7 linked regions of the Homo sapiens genome follow. The protein of the gene in region 7 purifies or fractionates together with the protein of the main gene of each other region. This does not show direct contact. Each region holds a gene or a part of one and is shown on either strand. Other genes may lie near its edges.

Region 1 (3,500 bases), on a different chromosome or scaffold from region 7:
TGTATTACAGACTTCTACAGTTGGAAGTAAGAGGCAATAATACTCACTTATCCTAAGAATCCTAAACTTTTTTTATATCCATTACCAACTTTTGAAATTCCCTAGGTTTTAGGGAATTTTAGGTTGGAGATTTCTAATCTAGTCAACTCCTTCTCTTCTAGATATAGCACATTTATTCACAGATAATCTATCCCCAAACCAGTCTTATATCACACTACAGTGTATTTAGTCAATAGGGGAAGAAAGGTGAAAGTCTCTCAACCAGAGAGAATTATATAGTCTTCCAATCTACTTACTGTATGTCACAAGGAAAAGTTGATGTTTTTGAAAAAGAAAAAAGAGAAAAAACCTGTACAGAGCAGTGCATACCTCTTGTTCTGCCTGATAAAGTTTGACAGTGATGTTCCTCTGGAAACCCACATCATTGGCATCGTAGAACACTCCAAGACTGGTAATAACGATGGGGTAGAGAACTCGGAAACTCACGCTGACAACTCGATCCTCAGGCAGCCCCGATGAAGTGTCTTCGGACAGACTGAACGCTTCAATTTCCTGATTCAAAACTAAGTAATGAGAACAGGTTTATATAACTGAACAAATGTAATCCTTTGTTTTACTAGTAAGAAGTAGTGAAGTGGGCTTAATGCCAAAACCTAGGTAATCATTTGCTATATAATTCACAAATGGCAGGAATTTTTAAAAAATGCTTGAGAAAAATGGCTGCTTCTATATAAACATTTTTGAAATTTAAGAATAAAGTTTTCAGCCACATCTAAGTAAGTTAATTATCAGAACTGCTTTAATAGCTTTTTGCATAAATGTGTGCATATATATGTATAAACGCCACAGGAGATATTAAATTTAAGTCAACTGGAAGGCATCTATTTGGAAGGGTTGGATAAATAGAAATAAGAAAAACAGTACTGACTGTAGTCATAAATAATCAGTAAATTTGGTCTTACTGTGCAAATTCCAAAAATCCTACTTCTTGTTAGGCAATTTAAAATACTTGTGATACATCAGGCAATTATTACGGTATAAATAAGCAACTGAAGTCACTTCAAATAACACTGAAAAACTCTTGCTGTACAGCACTGATAAAAGATAAGCATATCAAACACAGTTTTGAACCATCTTCTATGTACCATTTCCCATCACATTTATATCTTCACTACTACCCTTGTGGTTGTGGCATTATCTCCAGTTTACATATTAAGAAACTGAGGCCCAAAATTAAGCAATTCACCTAAGGTCATAGAAAGTGGCAGATCCAGGAATCAAGTCCCATTTAGTGATTCCAAAGTCAGTCCCCTTTCCACTCCCTCACAGCTGTCTAATCAGTGCCAAAACAGTTCAAATAATTTTTCTTTTATTTCTTTTTTTGAGACAGTCACCCAGTCACCCAGGCTGCAGTGCAGTGGCATGAACATGGCTTATTGCAGTCTCAACCTCCTTTGCTCAAGGGATCCTCCTGCCTCAGCCTCCTGAGTAGCTGGGACCGCAGGCACACACCACCAGGCCTTGCTAATTTTTTGTAGAGATGGGGGTCTCATCATGTTACCCAGGCTGGTCTTGAACTGCAATCCTCCCGCCTCAGCCTCCCAAAGTGCTGGGATTACAGGCATGAGCCACTGTGCCCAGCCTTCAAATAAATTTTCTAATTACCATAAATGAATCAGAATACATTAAATAAAGCAGTTCATAGGCAGGGAATATCAGTGCTACTTTAATAATATAAAACCCTATTTTAAAAGATTATATCAAAGTTCTTTGTATCTTTTAGAGCTGTGGTTTTCAAATTTTGCTGACTACACAACACCATCAGTTAAAAATATTTGTACACACACCTATTTACTTACAAAATATATGCATATATTGTGGTGAGTCTATATATTCAGTATTAATAAAGATTGTATTTTCTTATTTTCAGATAAATAGAAATTCTAAGCCTGGGCAACATGGTGAAACTCTGTCTCTACGATACAAAAATTAGCTGGGCGTGGTGGCACACACCTGTAATCCCACCTACTTGGGAGGCTGAGGCACGAGAATTGCTTGAGCCTGGGAGGAAGAGGCTGCAGTGACCTGAGATTGTGCCACTGCAGTGCAGCCTGGGCAACAGAGCAAGACCCTGTCTCAAAAAAAAAGAAATTACATTTTCTTCCTATACTCTAGGTCATTTGGTTGCCCACGTCAGACTTCCTAGAAGCTCTTTACACTCAGTAGATATTCAGTAAAATGGGATTAAAGGGAAGTGATGACTCCTACCTAATTATAGACATGAACAGGAGGGAAAAAAGGGAGAATACAGTTTTTTGTCATGGGCTGGGCAAGCACTAACTGGAGAGTCTAGACTACAACATAATGGACAACAATACAATTTTTTCTCTTTAAGATATTCAGTAAATAACAGATATCCATAGTAGAAACCTCTTTATTAAAAGCAATAAGTCAATTATAATATAGCATTTTTAGATATTTTCTTATCTAAAAGAATTGTGCCTTGAGCTTCAAGTTACGTGGACACAGGAAATCCCGTTGCATTACAGTGCTATTAAACCTTCTACCACAGCCACAGTATCACGATGATTAATGCTTACCATGACCTTCAGGTACTGAAATAACCATAACTGCCTTTGGATCATCGAAAAGATAAGATTAGGTTCAATATTAACTTAGTTATATACGCATTTAAAAATTCATAACCTAGGTATTACATATATGAAAATGTTCTTTTAACATAAAGTTCTACTTCTTTACTTTTAATAAATAACAGCACTTAAGATAATAAAAATATGGTTAATTTAAAAGTGAAGGGCTTCTTTTTGTTTTGGTTTGGTTTTCAATTGTAATTTGTTGGAGGATACATCAGTGGATACCACATCAGTGACATAACATTCTATGGGGTTTATGATCCCTTTAAGACTCCAGTGAGGCCAGGCGTGGTGGCTCACGCCTATAATCCCAGCACTTTGGGAGGCTGAGGGGGGTGGATCACGTGAGGTCAGGAGTTTGAGACTAGCCTGGCCAATGTGGTGAAACCCCATCTCTACTAAAAATAAGTCAGGCGTGGTGGCGGGCACCTGTAATTCTAGCTACTCGGGAGACTAAGGCAGGAGAATCGCTTGAACCTGGGAGGTGGAGGTTGCAGTGAGCCGAGATCGCGCCATTGCACTCCAGTCTGGGTGACAAGAGCGAAACTCTGTCTCCAAAAAAAAAAAAAAGACAAGACTCCAGTGAAAGCCAAAGGACTTTCTCCCCAGCACACAATTCATACATAAAATTTGCTTACAATGTTAACTGAATTCACAGACATCCTAAGTAAGAAACCTCTATTTTGTAATACAGACCTGAATATATTGTCCAATTTATTTAAAAAGCTGTTTGAAACCCAGCTTTATAAAATAGCAGGCTCTTTAAAATAATGTTCAGTACCTTCCACCTTCTAGGAACTATTATTCTAAATACATCATATGTATCAACTTATTTCATCCTTATGT
Region 2 (3,500 bases), on a different chromosome or scaffold from region 7:
CCTCACTGACCTGGGACTGTCAAGGGTCTGATGGTGACGCAGTGGTGGCCAGCCTTGCTTTAGGACCAAGAGTTCTGTTCTTATCCTTGATGCTCTCACGAGCTGTCCGTGGGGGTTACTGGCTCCCTATTTGTCACAGTCCCGACTCACCTGGGCCTTCATGGTCCTAGTAGGCCCCCAGGGGAAGGGGCTTCAGCTCTCAGCTCATGGCTCCAGCTGCCCAGCAGGTCCTCAGATGGACCCGTCCACTCAGGGACCCACATCTCTGGAGCACCTGCCATGCATTAGGCACTGTGCAGGGCCCTGGGACATGGCACGGCCCTACCTGCCTGTGTGATGTTCATCCATCAGTCCCAACAACAAAAGGGAAATGCTCTGTGGCCGAGGCTGGGGGGAGGGATGGAGGGTTGGAGCTCTGTGGGGGCTATCCCGGAGGGCTTCCCTGGGAAGGGACCTTGGAGCTAGGGGTGGAAGCTGAGGAGTCCGTGAATGGGATAAGAAGGTGGGGATAGCACCCACTAGGGACCACCAGGGCCTCCAGGGCAAAGTCCCCTCCAATGTGAGAGATCGGAGAGGTCCGGGGGGCTAGGGGTTATGGGAGGGATGAGGCAGAGTGTGGGGCAGGGAGGGGGCTGGCGCTGCTGTAGTGAATTGTGGTTTTGTCCTAAGAGCATGGGAGGCAGCCAGAGGGCTCTCCTTCCTTTCCTGCAGCTGGGTGCCAGAGAGTCTTGCTGAGAACCAGAGAGAACTTGGCTTGCAAGGTCACGGTGCCAGGGGCCAGCCATGGGAGAGTGAGGAGAGAGTGTCACTGGGCTCGGGAAAGGGGTCGTCCCTCACCTCAGTTTTTCCATCTGCAAAATGGGCCCTGCCTTCATCTCAGGCTGTTGTGAGAATCAGATGGACCAGCGTGGGGAAGGGTCAGGGTGCTGTGGGGTGGGAGGTGTGGTCAAGTGCAGGGGCCAGCCGCCTGGTCCTGGGAGGGTCAGGGCACAGCGGGGCAGGGCAGGCTCACCACACTGCCCTGGATGGTTTAGAAGCAGAGAGCATGGAGAATGGATGGATTAAAGCGAGGCCCATGGGGCTGGGCATGGAGGGCTCCTCCTTTGAGCTGGCGGGCGTGATGCTTTGCTCAACCTGAGCGGTATACAGTTGGCACTCCATGAGTGCATGCTGGCTCAGTGCTGCAGCAAGAAGCTGAGGCCCCCAGAGGCCTACAGTGATTCCTGACTCTGCCCCTCCCTAACTGTGTGGCCCCAGGCAAGTCGCTGACCCTCTCTGAGCCTGTTTCCTCACCTGGTTCCGAGATCTACCTTTGGCGGCTTTGCACTTGTACTCAGGATAAAACTCAAATTCTGCACAAGGTGTGATCAGATCCAGGTGGCGTTTCCAGCCACAGCTGGACTTTGCCACCTCTCTTCAGGCCTGTTGTAGTATCTTCATTCCACTGAGGGGTTCTGCGTAAAGTTCGTCTGCTCCCACCCCCAGCCTATGAGTTCCATAGAGCAGGCCTTATTCCCACCTTACTCAGTGTGCCTACCATGCATGCTTGGCATGTAGTAGGTGCTCAGTAAATACTTGTTGAGTGAGCAAAGCCTCAGGGAAGGCAGGCAGGGGGCCATCGCAGGATGGGCTATGCCGGCTGGGCAGGCCTAGGGGTGTGGGATTCTCCACTGACCCGAGGCCACGAGGCTACACCTTGGAGGTGCCGGCTGGCAGGACGGGTTGTTGGTGGGTTTTCTCCCAGCTCTGCCAGAGATGCGGGGGACAGGACCTAGGCTGTAGTCCACTGCATAGGGTTGGGGGCTACAGCTGCCTCAAGTCTAGGGGGCCCTCCTTGGCCTCCCGTACACACCACCTCCATGAAGTCACAAGTTGTGGCCTTGCCCTTGGCCATGGCCACCCTTGGCTGGACTCGATCCCACCATGGGGGAGGCCTGTGCTGAAGCCCCCTTCCCCCCACTGCAACCCGCATCCCAACCAAAGATGGGCCGGCCTTTCTCGGCCTCCTCTCCCGACAGCGGCCTGCAGTGGGAAGCTGGAGCAGCACACGGAGCGGCGTGGGGTCATCTACAGCCCGGCCTGGCCCCTCAACTACCCGCCAGGCACCAACTGCAGCTGGTACATCCAGGGCGACCGTGGTGACATGATTACCATCAGGTAGGGGCACCCGGGGGTGTCGGAAGGAATCAATGTGGGCCCACGTGCATGGGGTGGGTGAGAATGTGTGTGTGTGAGCAGGTGTGGAGGGCACACGCCTGAGGGTGTACATGTGTGTGAGCAGGTGTGGGATCATGTGCATGTGTGTGAGCATATGAGTGAGGCGTGTGTGAGCACTCGTGTGAACAGGTGTATGGGTGTGTGCATGTGTGTGAGCATTTGTGAGTAGGTGTGTGTGCATGCAGATGTGTGTGTGTGAGGTAGGCGTGTGTAGGTATTTGAGCAGGTATGTGGTGTGTGCATGCATGTGAACACATGTAAGTAGGTGTGTGTGCATATGTGTGTGTGTGCATGTATGTGAACACATGTGTGCTTGTGTACATGGAAAAGCCCATGTCGGAGAAGACATAAAGGACACATGTGAGAGACTGCATGTGTGAGCACATGTATGTGCACGAGCCATGCCTGCAAAGGTGCAGAGAGCGTGTATGTGCGCATGCATGTAAGATAACAGGTGTAACCATGTGTGAACCGTAAGCATGTATGTGCACATGTGAATGCATGCACGCAAGTGTGTCCAGTGCTCTGGGTCTCCACGGGCCTCTGTGGCGAGGTGCCCAAGCTGGACCTCTTCCTGGTTTGAGCCTCGTTCATGGGGTGTGGGGGGTCTCAGTCACTCAGCTCTGCCAGGAAGGCAGGGCCAGCACACAGGCCACTGGGAACACAGCCTGGGACTGGTGGGCATGGTCTGATGTCTCTGAGGTGGCAGAGGTGTCCTCTCTGTCCTGCAGGGGTGGCTGGGGGCCAGGCTGGCACTGAGCCCAGAGCATGGTTTCTGGAGGGGGCCTTGGGGAGGGGAGTGAATCAGGCAAAGCCCGGGTGCTTGAGCTGCAGGGACATGCAGAGGGAAAGGGGGCCAGGCAGTGAGCGGTGGTCCTGGCCAGGGGTGGTCACAGGGACATTTGGCTGGGGAGTCACTATAGGTTCCATCTGCCATAGTTTTCCTAAATGCCAGAGCCCAAAAAGCGCAACCCCTGACTTACTCCATAGCTGCAATGCGTGAGGATGTGATGGGCATGGGCAGGGTCTATCCTAGTCTCTGTGCCTCAGTTTCCCCAAGGGCCAGGTGGTTCAGGGCCAGTGTATCTCCGGAGATGACAAGCTGTCAACCTGCTGCAGCCTTAGCCAGCCCCGTGGGCAGTCTCACCCTCACTTCCCATGCCTGGGACTTTGTGCTGGGCCCATCCCAGTGGTCCCGAGGTGGAGGGTTCTGGGCCCTTGGGCCACTGCCCTTTTGGGGAGGGTGTCGGGGCAGGGGGCTCTTGACTTCCTGCTCCACTTCG
Region 3 (2,647 bases), on a different chromosome or scaffold from region 7:
CTAGTGCCAGGGACAAAGCAGATGCCCAATAAATGTGATGTCATCACACGACAATTCCCTCAGGCCCCAGTAGACTCAGGCCAGCAGTTGCGGTGGGTCAGAGCAAGTGTCAGGCCAGCAGTTGCGGTGGGTCAGAGCAAGTGTCAGGCCAGCAGTTGTGGTGGGTCAGAGCAAGTGTTAGGCACTCGGGGAAGGTGTCGAGGGGGAAAGCGGATGGGAAACAGAGTCTGGCATTGCCTGCATTTCCAAGGCCATCAGAGCTGAAGTTGTGGGTGACGGTGAAAATCTTGTCTCATTGGACCCTTCCATATCAGAAGGCTCATCTTTAGGGGTCTCATTGCCCCCCGAAATCAAGCTTGGGAGAGGCTCACACTGGAAAGGGCGGGGCAGGATGGGGTGGGGAGGAGATGAAGGCTGAGGCCCCATCACTCATAGAGAGGGTAGGCAGGGCCCCCCATCCTGCGTTATTTTATTTTATTCTTTTGAGACAGGATCTCATTCTGTTGCCCAGGCTGGAGTGCAGTGGCACGATCATGGCTCATCGCTGCCTCGAACTCCTGACTCAAGTGATCCTCCTGCCTCAGCATCCTGAGTAGCTGGGACTATAGGCAGGCACCACCACACCTGGCCAATTTTAAAATTTTTTGTAGAGACCAGAGTCTCACCATGTTGCCCAGGCTGGTCTCAAACTCCTGGCCTCAGGCAATCCTCCCGCCTCGGCCTCCCAAAGTCCTGGGATTGCAGGTGTGATCCACCACGCCTGGCCCTGAGTTAAATTTTTATCATTTTCCTCTCTGTCAAACTGCTAAGGGTGCAGAGTTGACGTCACAGATTGGTGCTCACAGTAGATGTAGACTGAGCACTTACCTGCAGCTGGGCTGTTCTAGGTTTTAAGCATGACTGCTTTATCCCCACAGCCAGCCTTTGAGAAGATGCTCTTGTTATCCCAGTTTTTTTGAGACAGTCTCGATCTGTCACCCAGGCTGGCGTGCAGTGGTGCGACCTCTGCCTTCCAGGTTAAAGCGATTCTCGTGCCTCAGCTTCCCAGGTAGCTGGGATTACAGGCACCCGCCACCACGCCTGGCTAATTTTTGTATTTTTAGTAGAGACGGGCTTTCACCATGTTGGCCAGGCTGGTCTTGAACTCCTGACCTTAAGTGATCCACCGGTCTCAGCCTCCCAAAGTGCTGAGATTACACGCATGAGGCACTGTGCCCGGCCGTTATCCCGGTTTTATACATAGGTAGGCGATATGAGGCATCCAGAGGTTCGAGGAGCTCAGGAGCTTGCCCGAGGTCACAGAGTGGGTAATGGTGACAGCTAACATGTGCTGAGCACTTAGTGTACACCAGGTTCTCAGTGCTCTTCAGAACCCTGAAATAATCCTGTGGAGCAGATGTGTTATAGACCCGTATTTCAAATGAGGGGATTTTGGCTCAGGGTGGTTACGGGACTTGCCTGAGGTTAACTGAGGTAACAAGCAGCAGAGCCAGGATTTGAACCTAGGCCATCGGGGTCACAGGCACACACTAAGCCCCTTCCTCTGCTGCCTCTGAGAAGTTAAACTGGGTGCAGCATGGCTGTGCTCTTTTCACCAAGGGACCCTGGGGTGGGGCAGTATGGCCTCTAGACCGTCCTCAGTTTCTCAATGGCAAGGTGGGGGTGGGCGACATCACCCCCCAGCCTCCAGCGTTCACCCCCGACCCTGCTCACCTCCTCCCCGCAGATGAAGTTCTCGCTGGAGAAGCTGCACCAAGGCATCACAGTCTCAGACCCTCCCTTTGACACCCAGCCCCGGCCCGATGACAGCTTTTCCTGAGGACCCCGGCCACGCAGCTGTTCCCCCACATGGACAGATGGACACACAGAGCCTCGGCGGCCACTGCTGGCACGGTGTGAGCGCCAGGCATCTCCCACCCGCCCCTCCCGACGGCCCAACCAGGGGCTGTGCAGACGTGGGGACCACGGAACCGAGATGCACTTTAGACCAGGGAGCTGGCCCGGCCTCTGGCAGGCCCCCCACTAACTTATTTTGCCCGGCTGAGGTTGTGGGGGGCGCCTCCTGGGGTGCACGATTCCCTCAGCTCTGGGTTTAATGTATTATATTTATTTGGGGCCGACAGTGCCCCAATAAAGGGTCAGAAGTGGCTGTGGCTGTGCCTGTGGGGCCCTGGGAGTGGGTGGGAGCCTCCTGTTGCACTCAGATCCTGCCATGGTGGGGAGGGGACCTCTGTCTGTGTTCTGGGGCCATAGTCACTGAAACGATCTGGAATTCCCGCAGCATCTTACACAAGCTTTACATCATCTGAGGTCAACGCAGGAACTCCGGGGACAGACCGTGGTAGCTGGAGTTCAAATCCTGCTTCCTAGCAGTGGTGTAAATGCAGCAGGTCAGCCCCCTGGAGCTCCAGTGAGCTTTCCTGTGCAATGGGTAGAATGGCAGTAGCTGTCTCTCAGGGTTGTTAGAAGGCAGTGGTTCTCAAACTTGAGCTGCATTCGAATCTCCTGGAGAGCTTGATGAAAAACAGACTGTGGGCCCCTCCCTCCAAATTTCTGGTTCAGTAGGTCTGGGGCAGGGCTGGGATTCTGCCTTTATAACGAGTTCCCAGGAGTTGCTCATGGTGCCATCCCAGACGACACTTTGGTT
Region 4 (3,500 bases), on a different chromosome or scaffold from region 7:
CCTATGACTTAGCCAGCTTCTTAACCTTTTAGCCTAGAGCCTGTAAAATAGGGATAATACTTCAGAGCTGTGGAGAGGATTAAAGGAGGTAACATGTAAAGTCCCTGACATGTGATAGGGCTTCAAATATTAATCCTGCTTCTGACACCAGTAGCCCACTCCACTCTCCCTGATGCTTGCCAGTGGGGTCTGTGTCAGGGCATGGGGAAAGGGGGGCTTGGGCTGCACAGACCCCCACCCTTCTCTTCAGGAACAGACGATACTGATTGGGTGAAAAACTGAGCTGGTGTCATCTGAGGACTAGGAAAGTGAGGCCAGCTGCTCTCTTCAGGCCAGCACCTAAAGCCCAGCAGATGTCCTGCAGGCTCATGGGACTGTCCCCTCACCTGATAGTGAAGCTGAAATCGCTCCATGTCCACACCCAGGAACTTGGCATTTACTTCAAACTTTCCTGCCTCATCTCCCGGCGTGATGTCAAAGATGACGTTTCTGAAGCTGTCAGGAACAGGATTCAAAACAGGAACCCACTGCCTCTTTCCAGGGCTACAGCCACATTCTTGCACCCACTGCTCCTCATCCTGGGCAGCGGTGTCATCCAGAACCAGTTTTCCCTCTGTCACTCCCAGAGGGCCCAGCTCGCTGTCTTCTCCATTTTACTTCTGCTCCCCACACCATCTCTTTATCTGCCCCGCCCTACGCAGCTGTTCTCACCTCTGGAAAGCTTTCCCAGTACCCTCTGCCTCAGGGCATCTAGAACTGTGCTAGACCATGTCCACAGCCCTTCACTTTCTGTCTGGGCATGCTCTGTCTCCACCATCATTCTAGCAGCTCCTTCAAGATCGGGACCATGCTTCTTCTCTTCCACCCGGTGCCCAGCCCAGAGCTCCACCCCCAGGTTAGAGGACAGGAAGGGGCTGACATCCTGCCCTCCAAAGACACATACTGAGAGGCGGGAAGATCTTCAATTTCCACCAAGACACCCTTTTCCAGGAGCTGAGCAGCAGTGTAATGAAGAGAAGGCTGCTTCTTCCCCTTCCCAGAACTCCTGATTAAAAGAAGGCCCCAGAGAATTCATCCAATAAACACTTTACCACCAAAGAAACTTGTTTTCTGTGGCTGGAAAGGAAATGAGACCCCGAGGAAGACTTCTCACTGATGGAAGACAGAGGAGGGGGGCTGCACTTGAGCCCAAGACTTTGTAAATGAGGCTCAAAGACCAGACTTAGGAAGGGACTGTGCTGTGCTGGGTGAGATTCCCCTTTCAAAGCTGGGAGATAGCAGGGCAAAGGTGACATGGGCAGGGGTGAGAAGTCACTCGTAACCTTCCAAGTACGGGAAAGCAGCACCTACTTGGAGTCGGGGGCCAGGTGGTCCAGGCAGGCCCGGATGTACTGGCTGTAGTAGTCACCCTGCTCCTCATAGAAGGTGGTCTTAGTGCTCAGGCCCTGTAATGTGGCCTGCAGCTTCACCAGCTCTGCCTTCCGCCTGTGCCTGTGTCTGTGCTGGTTGCGGATGTCCTGGGGTTGGGGAACAGATGGAGGGATGAGTGGTCCTTCCTGGCAGGAGAGCCTTAGGGCCTGACACAGGCCCAAGAGCTACACACTGTGAGGCTCTTCGGAAGAACAGGCTTCAAGGCTGTTTTCCTAGAAGGAAAATCTCAAGGATGGTATTCCAAATCCTCAAGGCATGTCCTCAGGGCCTCTGCCCGTTGAGGACTAACTGGTTTCAAGGCTGTTTGTTTTTTAGTAAAAGAAAGTTGCAAGGATACTTTTGTAGGTCATAAGCTGAGGATTGGGTTTTCATGCTCTTGTGTGAGATATGCTTCTCTCAAACCTTCTGACCTGGGCACATTACCCAGCTAATGTGGGGAAGAAAAAAAAAAAGAGAGTTGCAAGAACACCTTCCTCTCTAACTAATTTCAAGATCTTTCCTTCAGGCTAGGAGTGGTGATTCACACCTGTAATCCCAGCACTTTGTGAGAGCCTAAGGTGGGCAGATTACTTGAGGTCAGGAGTTTGAGACCAGCCTGGCCAACATGGTGAAACCCTGTCTCTACTAAAAATACAAAAATTTGGCTGGGTGCAGTGGCTCACACCTGTAATCCCAGCATTTTGGGAGGCCAAGATGGGCGGACCCTGAGGTCAGGAGTTCGAAACCAGCCAGGCCAACATGGCCTGAAACCGTGTCTCTACTAAAAATACAAAAATTAGCCGGGCATGGCAGCGCGCACCTGTAATCCCAGCTACTTGGGAGGCTGAGGCAGGAGAATCACTTGAACCCAGGAGGTGAAGGTTGCAGTGAGCCAGGATCACACCACTGCTCTCCAGCCTGGATGAGAGTGAGACTGTCTCAAAAAAAAAAAAAAAAAAGAAAAAAAAATCTTTCCTTCAAAAAGGACCCTCAGCCTTCCTCTGGCTGGTGACAATTTTGGGTGAGGACTCATCAGGAGGGGCCCACCAACACTATGGATTAACATGTATATGCACGCACACACACACACGTACACACAGGCACACGGAGCCCAGGCCCAGGTTGTTACCTTGGCCAGCTCGTCCACTAGCCCCTGGTAGCCATTTCTGGCGCTGACCAACCCCAGGGCTTCAAGTCGGCGTAGGTTCCGCAGGACGCGCCGCTGCTTCTCTGCCAGTGGCAGGAGGGAGTGAGCTGTCAGTGAGCGGTGTCGTCGCAGTGGCTCCGGTGTCTGGGCTGTACAGGCCTGGCGTCGGCTCATCAGCTGCTTGTGGGCTGCTTCCTGGGGACACACAGACGCTGGAGGGGTCTACCAGGTCCTACCATTCTGCTCCCACACCAGTGAAGGTCCCATGGGCACCAGCAACAAAGGGAGGCCTGAGCATTTTTCTGCATATCATTAAGAAAGTGCCCCAGAGCCCAGCCTCTGCAGGATATGGCTGGGGCAGGGCATCGCTTATGAAGAATATCAAGGTATAACACCATAATGCATGGTGTCACACATGGGAGGGCCTCATAGATCACCACAGGGGAAGAGTGGCCCAAAGGAGAACCAAACCCAGGCCATGGCATAAAGGATTCCGGACAGACACTAGCTGTGACTTCCCAACAATGGATCTTTCTGACGGCACAGGATGTTTGGGGGCATTTACCTGTCTGTTCTGTTTTGGGACATACCTCTACTGGCCATCCCCACCTTTTCTTTGGGAAGACCCTGGTTCAGTCTTCACTCCAGCGGGCCCAACCTGCCCCTGGCCCCCCACCTGCCTACTACCTTCTCCTGCCTCCAGGCATTCTAGCAGACCACTCTTCTGAGTGCAGGCCTTCCAGGGGAGCATTCCCAGACGGTCTCTCAGTGCCCCCCATAGCCCTAGTGTTGGTGCTTGTTTCAGTGTGTGAAGTGGGGAGAGGGGTGGGGCCCCATGACTCTGTAGCCCGAGGCTTCCCAAGGCTAAAGCTGTATCCCTCATCCTGTAGGCCTCCAGAGTTCTCATTACTGGTGAGCACAGGTGTCTGCTTCTGGCTGATGT
Region 5 (3,500 bases), on a different chromosome or scaffold from region 7:
TTCATCCTCCCAAAGCTCTGAACTATAGGCACGTGCCACTATGCCCCCAATTTTTTGTAGATATGGGGTTGGTGTGGGGGTGTCTTGATATGTTGCCCAGGCTGGTCTCCAACTCCTGGCCTCAAGTGATCCTCTCAAAGTGCTGGGATTACAGGTTACAGGTGTGAGCCACCATGCTTGGCCAGGTTCACGAATTCCTATTTTTTTTTTGGAGGTAGGGTCTTGCTCTGTTGCCTAGGCTGGAGTGCAGTGGCATGATCGCTGCTCACTGCAGCCTGGACCTCCTGTGTTCATGTGATCTTCCCACCTCAGCCTCCCAAGTAGCTGGGACCACAGTTGTGTGCCATAACACTTGGCTAATTTTTATAGAGCCAGAGTTTTGCTATGTTGCCCAGGATGGTCTTAAACTCCTGGGCTCAAGTGATCCTCCCACCTCCGCCTCTCGGAGTTCTGGGATTACAGGTGCAGATTCACACATTCTTTTTTTTTTTTTTGAGACGGATTCTTGCTCTGTTGCCCAGGCTGGAGTGCATTGGTGTGATCTCCGCTCACTGCAAGCTCTGCCTGCCGGGTTCACGCCTTTCTCCTGCCTCAGCCTCCTGAGTAGCTGGGACTCATTTTTTTGTATTTTTTAGTAGAGACGGGGTTTCACTGTGTTAGCCAGGATGGTCTCCATCTCCTGACCTCGTGATCCGCCCACCTCGGCCTCCCAAAGTCCTGGAATTACAGGCGTGAGCCACCACGCCCGGCCAGATTCACACATTCTTTTTTTTTTTTTAAAGACAGAGTTTCGCTCTTGTTGCTCAGGCTAGAGTGCAATGGCATGATCTCGGCTCACTGCAACCTCCGCCTCCCGGGTTCAAGCGATACTCCTACCTCAACCTCCTGAGTAGCTGGAATTACAGGCATGCACCACCATGCCCAGCTAATTTTTTTTTTTTTTTTGTATTTTTAGTAGAGATGGGGTTTCTCCTTGTTGGTCAGGCTGGTCTCGAACTCCCGACCTCAGGTGATCTGCCCATCTCGGCCTCCCAAAGTGCTGGGATTACAGGTGTGAGCCACCACGCCTGGCCCAGATTCACACATTCTTAAAAGTGAAAGGGATCTTGGTCGTTTGAGCCTCACCAGTTTATTTGTAAGTGGGGAAACTCAGATTCAGAGATACTGTAATTTAATAAAGGTAGGTTAATTAAAGATGGGGCAGGGATTTATTATTCATTCTTTTAGCAAATATGTATGGAATACCTCCTATATGTCAGCCTCTGGTACTGATGGTGAGTAAAACAATGTGTTTCCTAATCTAACGGGCCTCACAGTTTAGGTTGCCATCCTTACCATTTTCTTAGTTCCATTCGGATACTGATGAGAAAAAATAATATCTGATCTTCTGCTGGAAGTATTTTTGATAAGAATATAGGTTTTGGAATACCATCGGTGTGTGTAATCTGTGAAATACTATTTCTTAGCTTGCTTTTTTTTTTTTTTTTGAGACGGAGTCTCGCTCTGTCGCTCAGGCTGAAGTGCAGTGCCGCGATCTTGGCTCACTGCAATCTCTGCCTCCTTGGTTCAAGCGATTCTCCTGTCTCAGCCTCCTGAGTAGCTGAGACTACAGGTGCCTGCCACCATGCCTGACTTATTTTTGTATTTTTGTATTTTTTTGGTTTTTGAGACGGTATCTCACCCTGTCGCCCAGGCTGGAGTGCAGTGGCATGATCTCAGCTCACTGCAACCTCTCCCTCCTGGGTTCAAGCAATTCTCCTGTTTCAGCCTCCTGAGTAGCTGGGACCACAGGCTCACACCACCATGCCCGGATAATTTTTATATTTTTAGTAGAGACGGGCTTTCACCATATTGGTCAGGATGATCTTGAACTCCTGACCTCAAGTTATCCACCTGCCTTGACCTCCCAAAGTGCTGGGATTACAGGTGTGAGCCACTGTGCCCGGCCTAATTTTTGTATTTTTAGTAGAGATGGGGTTTCACCATATTGGTCAGGCTGGTCTCGAACTCCTGACCTCAGGTGATCCACCCACCTCTGCCTCCCAAAGTGTTGGGATTACAGGCGTGAGCCACCGCGCCTGGCCTTTTTAGCTTTTTTTGAGGAGGCTTGTTATATAAAAATTCTTCGTTACTTTTTTTTGTTTTGGTGGGCTGGTAAATATTGTTGGAACAAACCACTAATGTTTTGCATCTTGTATTTCTGTAGAAGCGATCCTTTCTTCCTTTAAAATCAGGTGTTATAAAGTCTTGGGGAAGTAGAACAAATTTTGGAGTGGCAATCAGGAGAATTAAGTTATGGTTCTAAATTTGCTGTGTAACCTTGAGTGATCTCTGTACACTTTATTTGGAGATTAGAATTCATGTTAACACATTAAGGGTTCTGAAAAGTCCTGAGGTAAAGAGACCGGTTTTAACTTTGTTTAACCTATTATTTTCCAAACTTGTCAAGTATTACATTGATATTTGATGACAGTTTCATATAGTTAATTTGATACTGTCATTCCTGTTTACTTACCTGGCTTCAGGTTTGCTCATTTGGCTAAACAATAATTTGTCTGGTTATTAAATTTTAAGGTTTTAGCTTGTTATTATCAGAAGGGCTAATAGTGATTTCCTGTGGTTCAATTTTTTTTTTTTTTTTTGAGACGGAGTCTTGCTCTGTCGCCCAGGCTGGAGTGCAGCGGCGTGATCTCAGCTCACTACAAGCTCCGCCTCCCGGGTTCACGCCATTCTCCTGCCTCAGCCTATAGGCGCCCGCCACCACGCCCGATTAATTTTTTGTATTTTTAGTAGAGATGGGGTTTCACCGTGTTAGCCAGGATGGTCTCGATCTCCTGATCTCGTGATCCGCCCGCCTCGGCCTCCCAAACTGTTGGGATTACAGGCGTGAGCCACCGCGCCCGGCCATGATTCAATTTTTAAGAGATTTTTTTCTTTGCTTTAATTGGAAGTTTTTCCATTTGCTGTACTGAACTACTGTGTCCTTATATATGCTTTGGCTGTCAGAAAGGACTGTTTTAAATATCAAAGGAGATTCTGGGAAGGGATATATTAATGGAAAATATTTTATGAGAACGTATATTTTTTGTTTAAATATTTTGCGCATACTGGAAAAATAATGTTTAGTGCTATTTAGGCCATGGGTAACTACTCTGAGAAAGATTATTTTCATCGTAGAAATTCTATTGAAAGTTTACATTTAGAGAAGATTATATGGAAGGTACTATAGCAGAAAGACATGGCTTGTTGTTAAACAGGCCAAGTTAAACTCTTCTGCCGCTTTGTGTTCCTTTGGACAAGTTATTTCCTTTCCTGTTAGGTGGGGATATAACTTGCAAGACTTCTGTGAGAACTGACGAAATGTTTGTAAAGGGGTAGTAGAACGCACAGTCAATAGTAGACATTGAATAAATGGTTGCTATTATTAAGATGGCCGAATTAAAAGAAACATTATACTCTGGAAAGACTGGTAAAACATTTTAAGTGTCGCTATGTCCTGG
Region 6 (3,500 bases), on a different chromosome or scaffold from region 7:
TGTTGTTGAGAGTCCAAGGCAATTCTGACTTTTTGTATGTGACTTTTTTTTCCTCTCTCTGAAAACTCATAGGATCTCTGTTTCCAGTGTTCTGAAATCTCAGGATGACTGTGCTTTGGGTGGGTCACTTTCATCCATTGTGCTGAATATTCGATGGGTCCTTTCAATATGAAAACTAATGTCCTCAAGTTCCAATAAATGTTCTTGAATTAGTTCCTCAATTATTTCCTTCCCTCTGTGTTGCCATTTTTCTTTTTCTATGACTCCTATTTAGATACTGGACCTCCTAGACTGATCCTTTAAATGTTTGTTTGTTTTGTGGGTTGTTGGAATCTTTCCTCTCCTTTTTTTTTTTTTTTTTTAAAGAGACAGGCTTTCATTCTGTTACCCAGGCTGGAGTACAATGGCGAGATCATGGCTCACCTGCAGCCTTGACCTTCTGGGCTCAAGCAATTCTCCTATCTCAGCCTCCTGAGTAGCTGGGACTACAAGTGTATGCCACTATGCCTGGCTAATTTTTATTTTTTTGTAGAGACAGGGTCTTGCTGTGTTGCTGAGCTGGTCTTGAACTCCTGGCCTCCCGCCTCAGTCTCCCAAAGTGCTGGGATTACAGGTATGAGCCACTGCACCTTCTCTCCTATTTTCTACTTTGTTGATTTTTAACTCTCCTTTCTGGGAAATTTCCTCATGTTGATTTTTGAAACCTCCAGCTGGGTTTAAATTTTTGCTACTATATTTTTAATTTCCAAGAGTTCCTTTTTGTTTTCTGAAAATTCCTTCTTTAAAAAATTGTATCCTATACTTGTTTCATGGTGGAAATAAGGTTTTTTGTTGTTGTTGTTTTTGTTTTTTTGAGACAGAGTTTCACTCTTGTTGCCCAGGCTGGAGTGCAATGGTGCAATCTCGGCTCACAGCAACCTCCACCTCCTGGGTTCAAGCGATTCTCCTGTCTCAGCCTCCCGAGTATCTGGGATTACAGGTACATGCCACCATGCCCAGCTAATTTTTGTATTTTTAGTACAGACAGGGTTTCATCATATTGGGCAGGCTGGTCTCAAACTCCTGACCTCAGGTGATCTGCCTGCCTCGGCCTCCCAAAGTGCTGGGATTACAGGCGTGAGCCACCGTGCCCGGCTGTTGTTTTCTTTAAAGATATACTACTTTCACAGGTATTGAGAAATATGTTCCTTTATCTAAGATTATATTAATGTTATTAAAGTTTTCTTCTCATCTTTTCCTTCCAGTTGCTTTTTTCCTGTTTGTTTCTTCTGTGTGTACATGAGGTTGGGAGAGGCAGTTTGCTTTTTCATTTTTATTTATTTTTTACCAGGGAGATACAGCCTTCAGAGTAAAACAAAGGTACATTCCAGAGTGGGGTGGGGGGCAGTTTGGATCACTTTTTTTCACAGATCCTTTCTTTAGATGTTTGGTAATCCCTAGTTTAAAGGAGAACTTAAACCATAACTTAAGAGTGGAGGCTTTAAAGCTGAGTGGAAGCTCTAAGTGTGTAAGTGAGCCTTGCTGACAGTGAGTCATTTGGATAGGGAACATTCAATACTTATATATTTTAGGACTTCCCTTCAAGAGGATTCTGGAGAGAAGGATTATTCAATTTCATGCTTGGAGGGTGAAGGCTCTTCTGCCAGCGCTCTGGAAACTGAAAAGGGGGAAAGGGCTGGAGGCTCAGCATCGAGTATAGTTCACTACATGCTCCTGTTTTCAGTGCAGTACTTCAGCCCTAAGCTGTGCCCGAGTCCCTTGCCAGATTTCCAGTCTCTGCCACAGTTGGGAGGCAGAGTTGCCCACTGTACTCAATGGGGTAGGGTGTCTTGGGATCTGACTGTTTCTTAGACCTTCAATGCTTCTTGGCTTTCCTCACTGCTAGTTATAATTCAGTTTTCTCAGGTCTAAGTCATTCATCACTCTTTTGTCTGCTTTTCAGCTTCCAAAAATTCATTGCTATTATCTCCTCTCCTGTTTTCCCTATGGTGTGTTTGTGTCTTTTTCTTTAAAAAAATTCCTTTATGGTGGTTTTAGGGGAGTTTTTGGGAATATATATTCAATGTACCACCTTTTTTTTTTTTTGAGACAGAGTCTTGCTCTGTCACCCAAGCTGGAGTGCAGTGGTGCGATCTCCACTCACTGCAACCTCCTCCTCCTGAGTTCAAGCGATTCTCATGCCTCAGCCTCCCAAGTAGCTGGGATTACGGCACATGTCACCATGCCTGGCTAATTTTTATATTTTTAGTAGAGACGGGGTTTCACCATGTTGGCCAGGCTGGTCTCAAACTCTTGTTCTCAAGTGATCCACCCGCCTCAGCCTCCCAAAGTGCTGGGATTACAAGCATGAGCCACTACGCGCAGCCCAATCTACCAATCTACCGTCTTTAACTGGAAGCCTACCATTGTTATTCAAACTTGAGAATTCAGACTCCCAAGAACATGTCTTTGGACACCAGTTGAAGATACATACACTACATTGATAGTTAAATACTATCATTCAGGCCACAGGCCCATAAACATATTGGATTTGGCTTTCTCAGTGTTTGTTTGTTTATAATTGAGACAGGATCTCACTCTCTGCCCAGGCTGGAGTGCAAAAAATTTTTAATTTTTTGTAGAGACAGGGTCTCACTAAGTTATCCAGGCTGGTTTCGAACTCCTGAGCTCAAGTGATCCTCCTGCCTTGGCCTCTCAAAGTGCTGGTGTTACACTGTGCCCAGACTTGAAGATCTGGCAAAAATAGGTCTTAGTTGACCAGACCTAGATAGTTGTCGCCTTTTTTTTTTTTTGAGACGGAGTTTCACTTTTGTTGCCCAGGCTGGAGTACAATGGCATGATCTCGGCTCACTGCAACAAAATCTGCCTCCCAGGTTCAAGCGATTCTGTGATTCTCCTGCCTCAGCCTCCCAAGCAGCTGGGATTATAGGCGCCCACCATCAAGCCCAGCTAATTTTTTCTACTTAGTAGAGATGGGGTTCCACCATGTTGATCAGACTGGTCTGTAACTTGTGACCTCAGGTGATCCACCTGCCTTGGCCTCCCAATGTGGTGGGATTACAGGCGTGAGCCACCACACCCAGCTGCCTTTAGTTTTTTGAGACAGAGTCTTGTGCTGTCGCCCAGGCTGGGGTGTAGTGGCACAGTCTCGGCTCACTGCAACCTCTGCCTCCCAGGTTCTAAAAATTCTCCTGCCTCAGCCTCCCGAGTAGCTGGGATTACAGGCATGCAGCTCCACGCCCAGCTAATTTTTTATTTTTAGTAGAGACAAGATTTCACGATGTTGGCCAGGCTGGTCTTCAACTTCTGACCTTAGGTGATCCACCCACCTTGGCCTCCCAAAGTGCTGGGAATACAGTCATGAATCACCATGCCCGGCCCAGCTGTCGCCTTCTTTTCATATGTAGTTCACTTCACTGCTTGGTCCATGTAGGCAATTTGAGTTTCTAGTTTCTGCCTTGGTGCTAATGCAAATGTACTCAGAAACATAAAATAGGCAC
Region 7 (3,500 bases):
AACCTGGTTGGGGAAATAAGAGTCCGGGTACCCTGAAACCCACAGCAATGTTGATCCCAGGAGATTTCTACTCCAGGCAGCTTGGGACAGAGGATGGCCAGAGGGCCAGAGCTGCCTCAAGCAAACACTGGGGCTGGGGCCTCAGCAGGTGGCCCAGGAGCCTGGGCAAGGAACAGGTGCTGCTGTTGGCCCACCAGCCTCAGGCCGCGTGTCTGGCTCCGGCAAGGGCTCCCCACAAGCCCCCTATTTGTGTGCACTGGGGTTCCCCTGCCTTTTACAGCATCTTTTTAAAATGCAGAAGGGGAGGCAAGGGCCGAGGCCACGGAGCCACTCCACAGCGCAGACCTCCCAGACTGAGAGGACGAGGAAGTCTTTAGCAGTGGAGGCGGCAGGGCCTAGTGTCTGCCTCAGGCAGGGTGAGGGGGCTTCCTCCTGTGCCCCTTGGGGGCCCCCAGCCTGCAGCCACCCGCACCAGGGCCACTCTAGGCCTTAGGTGCCCACCAGAATCCCCGCCTCACCCTGCACCGTCCGTGTTGGGAACCCTGGGCCAGGCTTTCCTTCCTTCCTGGGCTTCCTCTGGGGGCTGAGGCTGTGCCTTGCAGAGACTGCCAGGCCTGGCAGCACTGGGTGGGGGCCCTGGGGTGGGATCCAGGCAGTGGCAGGTGTCAGGACTGCAAGCAATGGGCCCCTGGAAGGAGAGGGAGGCGGGGGTGTCAGAAGCCAGAGGAGGAGGCCTAGGGTGGGTCCCTGGGGAGGCAGAGGGAGGCCCGAGCAACTCAGCTACAGGCCTTGGAGGACTTTGGTCCCCACCTAGCGTCGTGGTGAGGAGTGGATGTGGTCAGATCTGAGTTCTCAGACGACTGCCTGGCCATGGGGCAGAGAATGGCACCGGGGAGATTCCGGGAGGATGGTGGGGAGCTTCCCTTGGGCATCAGGGCGGTGGACAGCAGGGCCTCCTTGAAGCAGGAGTGGGGATGTCACAGGGTCATCAGTGACACAGCAGGGGCCAGACCTCCTGGCCCCATCCTGTTCTCAACCCTTCGGGGGGCTCTGCTGCGCTGACCTCGCCCTGCAGCTCTGAGCCACACATGAGCGACAGGACCCGACCAAAAGGGAACTGGGGGAGTTACAATTTTGAGATGTCGGAAACCGGGGAGGGGCTGGGGCCGGGAGTGGATTCTAGGCCCAGCTGGGTCTATTTGTCCCCAGGCGTCTGGCCGTGGGTACCCCTTGGGTCGTGGACGCACAGGAGGTGTGGGAGCTGACATCCCATGGGGCCTGAACTCCAGAGCTGGGCAGCGCTGGCTCAGGGAGGTGGCGCCTTGAGGGTTAGGACCTGAGCAGCGGCAGTGACTGCCCACGGGGAAACCAGGACAGTGGGGCTGGGTGGGGGCGGTGGGGGCAGGCTCTCGAAGTGGAGCTTGTGTTGCTGAGGGATGTGATGGCGGAGGCCCAGGCCGCCCCACATCTTGGTGAACCCTGGCTGGAAGGGCAGGCAGGAGCGAGACGGGTATCTGGAGTCTGCAGTGCCTCGCGCAGCCGTAGGAGGGTCAGGAGGACGCTAGGGCACAGGGTCAGGAGTGCAGCCCCCTGCTCTGAGCGGCGCAGCCCCCCCACCCCCCTCTGAGCGGCGTTACCCCCACTGTGGGAGTGTGGGAATGCTTTTCTGCAGGAGCTTCAGCCTTGGGGTTCCAGCACCTCCTCCTTAACTGGACAGGGTCAAGACCCAGATCCCTGAGCGCCAGGTTCCCTGCTCCCGGCCCCAAATCTGAGGCACTGGGTGCTTCCTTGTTGTCTGGGTGGGTGCAGGAGGTCGTCCTCACCCGACACTTGACTCCCGGACCCCCGCTGTCTTACCCAGCGTGTCCCAGGGAGCCTCCGCCACTGGGGGTGTGACACTGCCTAGACCACCTGCCTAAGCTGTGGATTTCTCCCAGGTGCAGCCTTCCACCGGGCACTCAGTGCCCAGGCTGTGAGGGCAGCTGTGGGTCACCTTCACCTCCTGGGGTGAATGGTTTTATTGCATGTGCTCTGGTCCTGGAGGCAGGAATCCCTCAATGCGCACAGCACCTACCCCTTCACCATATCTGCTACCCACTCCAGCTGAACTGCCCTTAGGTTCTCCTTGAAGAAGCATAGGAAAGGAGGTTCTGGGGACAAGGATGGCCTAGAAGGCCAGGGTGGTCAGCAAAGTCCCCAGGGGACCCAGTCCTCCCAGGAGAGGACCAGTGAGTGGGCCCTGTGGACCCCAGTCCTGGCAGGAGAGGTATGCTCAGTGGGTTTGGAGTCAGGAGCCATCACGGGAGGCCTGGAAGCAAAGACTCTCCCAGGAGTCTCCACAGGGGAGGGTCTGGCCCTGAAGGGGTGAAGTTTCATTTTCCAGGAGCTGCCCACGGAGAATCAGCTGTAGGCTATAAAACAATCCATGGCGTTTGGAGCTAAGGTGTCGCCCGGGAGAATCCTGAGGAAAGGGGCAAAGGTTGGGAAGTGCTGATAGCATCGGGGCAGGGAAGGAACCACCAGGGCTCCCTGTGGGTACCTGGCAGCTCCGCCAGAGGCTGAGAGAGAGACAGGGATGGTGAGTCACTCTTGGCCGCCAGCCCCCCCAGCCCACTCCCTGCCACCCCAGGAGCTCCCCGCCTCTGGGCGTGTGTGGCGCTCCCTGTGACCACACAGGCTTGTTAAGATGCCTGTCTGGGCCCAAGCTCCAGCACCCAACCAGCCTCATGTCTACTGCAGAAATGGCTGAGCTCTCCCAGCGTGGCCACCCCCACTGCCGGCTTCTCCAGGAGCCAGGGGCTGCACTGGGGCATGTTTAGAGTTGGGGTTCCCATCCTGCACATCATCTGCCCAGCGTCTGGGCTGAGTCCCACAACCAGGAGTCTCAGTGCACGATGAAGCCACCAAGGCTTTCCTCACCCACCCTTGAGACAAGAGTCTCAGGATACCAGGTGTCAGGGTGCCAGGTGTTGGCGTGCCAGGTTTCTGGGTACCAGGTGTTGGGGTACCAGGTCTCAGGGTGCCAGGTCTCAGGATGCCAGATCTCCAAGTGCCAGGCCTCAGGGTGCCCGGTCGCGAAGTGCCATATCTCAGGGTGCTAGATCTCAGGGTATCAGGTCTCAGGGTGCCAGGTCTCAGGGTACCAGGTCCTGGGATGCCAGACTCCACCCTCCCCCAAATCATGCACTCACCCCAGCTTCATCCCTTCACACTCAGCATCTCTCCTGCTCCACCTTTCCTGAGCTCGGAGCCTTCCTCCTCTGAGCTCCTGAGGACACCTCCTCCTCCAAGGTCTTTTGGCTCAACCAGGTTGATGCCACAATGGCAGAGGTTGTCTGTCTTATTCCTCCTGTGTCCCCAGTGCCTGTCCCCAGCAGAGTCCTGCAGATCTGAGCACGTGAATGGACATGTGGATGGATGGATGGATGAGTGAATAGATAGATGGATGGATGCGTGGATTGATGAATGGATGAATGGATGAGTAAATGGATGGAAGGGTG

The links.
Region 1: the proteins of SLC9A3 (region 7) and B3GALNT2 purify together in Homo sapiens (affinity purification with mass spectrometry; one large-scale study listed by BioGRID and IntAct). This does not show direct contact.
Region 2: the proteins of SLC9A3 (region 7) and LRP3 purify together in Homo sapiens (affinity purification with mass spectrometry; one large-scale study listed by BioGRID and IntAct). This does not show direct contact.
Region 3: the proteins of SLC9A3 (region 7) and GRAMD1A purify together in Homo sapiens (affinity purification with mass spectrometry; one large-scale study listed by BioGRID and IntAct). This does not show direct contact.
Region 4: the proteins of SLC9A3 (region 7) and IQGAP3 purify together in Homo sapiens (affinity purification with mass spectrometry; one large-scale study listed by BioGRID and IntAct). This does not show direct contact.
Region 5: the proteins of SLC9A3 (region 7) and LRP6 purify together in Homo sapiens (affinity purification with mass spectrometry; one large-scale study listed by BioGRID and IntAct). This does not show direct contact.
Region 6: the proteins of SLC9A3 (region 7) and PRKAG1 purify together in Homo sapiens (affinity purification with mass spectrometry; one large-scale study listed by BioGRID and IntAct). This does not show direct contact.

The regions. Positions count from the first base shown.
Region 1 is NC_000001.11:235,483,953-235,487,452, forward strand, and holds part of B3GALNT2 (UDP-GalNAc:beta-1,3-N-acetylgalactosaminyltransferase 2), read right to left. Parts: intron 564-3,500; coding exon 370-563; intron 1-369. UniProt on the Homo sapiens protein: Beta-1,3-N-acetylgalactosaminyltransferase that synthesizes a unique carbohydrate structure, GalNAc-beta-1-3GlcNAc, on N- and O-glycans. Has no galactose nor galactosaminyl transferase activity toward any acceptor substrate.
Region 2 is NC_000019.10:33,200,830-33,204,329, forward strand, and holds part of LRP3 (low-density lipoprotein receptor-related protein 3 precursor), read left to right. Parts: intron 1-2,018; coding exon 2,019-2,157; intron 2,158-3,500. UniProt on the Homo sapiens protein: Probable receptor, which may be involved in the internalization of lipophilic molecules and/or signal transduction. Its precise role is however unclear, since it does not bind to very low density lipoprotein (VLDL) or to LRPAP1 in vitro.
Region 3 is NC_000019.10:35,024,323-35,026,969, forward strand, and holds the end of GRAMD1A (protein Aster-A), read left to right. Parts: intron 1-1,726; coding exon 1,727-1,819; 3' UTR 1,820-2,147; downstream 2,148-2,647. UniProt on the Homo sapiens protein: Cholesterol transporter that mediates non-vesicular transport of cholesterol from the plasma membrane (PM) to the endoplasmic reticulum (ER).
Region 4 is NC_000001.11:156,527,566-156,531,065, forward strand, and holds part of IQGAP3 (ras GTPase-activating-like protein IQGAP3), read right to left. Parts: intron 2,753-3,500; coding exon 2,540-2,752; intron 1,865-2,539; exon of another isoform or gene 1,765-1,864; intron 1,518-1,764; coding exon 1,351-1,517; intron 1,046-1,350; coding exon 944-1,045; intron 496-943; coding exon 387-495; intron 1-386.
Region 5 is NC_000012.12:12,260,545-12,264,044, reverse strand, and holds part of LRP6 (low-density lipoprotein receptor-related protein 6 isoform b precursor), read left to right. Parts: intron 1-3,500. UniProt on the Homo sapiens protein: Component of the Wnt-Fzd-LRP5-LRP6 complex that triggers beta-catenin signaling through inducing aggregation of receptor-ligand complexes into ribosome-sized signalosomes.
Region 6 is NC_000012.12:49,008,777-49,012,276, forward strand, and holds part of PRKAG1 (5'-AMP-activated protein kinase subunit gamma-1), read right to left. Parts: intron 614-3,500; exon of another isoform or gene 533-613; intron 1-532. UniProt on the Homo sapiens protein: AMP/ATP-binding subunit of AMP-activated protein kinase (AMPK), an energy sensor protein kinase that plays a key role in regulating cellular energy metabolism.
Region 7 is NC_000005.10:517,950-521,449, reverse strand, and holds part of SLC9A3 (sodium/hydrogen exchanger 3 isoform 1 precursor), read left to right. Parts: intron 1-3,500. UniProt on the Homo sapiens protein: Plasma membrane Na(+)/H(+) antiporter. Exchanges intracellular H(+) ions for extracellular Na(+) in 1:1 stoichiometry, playing a key role in salt and fluid absorption and pH homeostasis.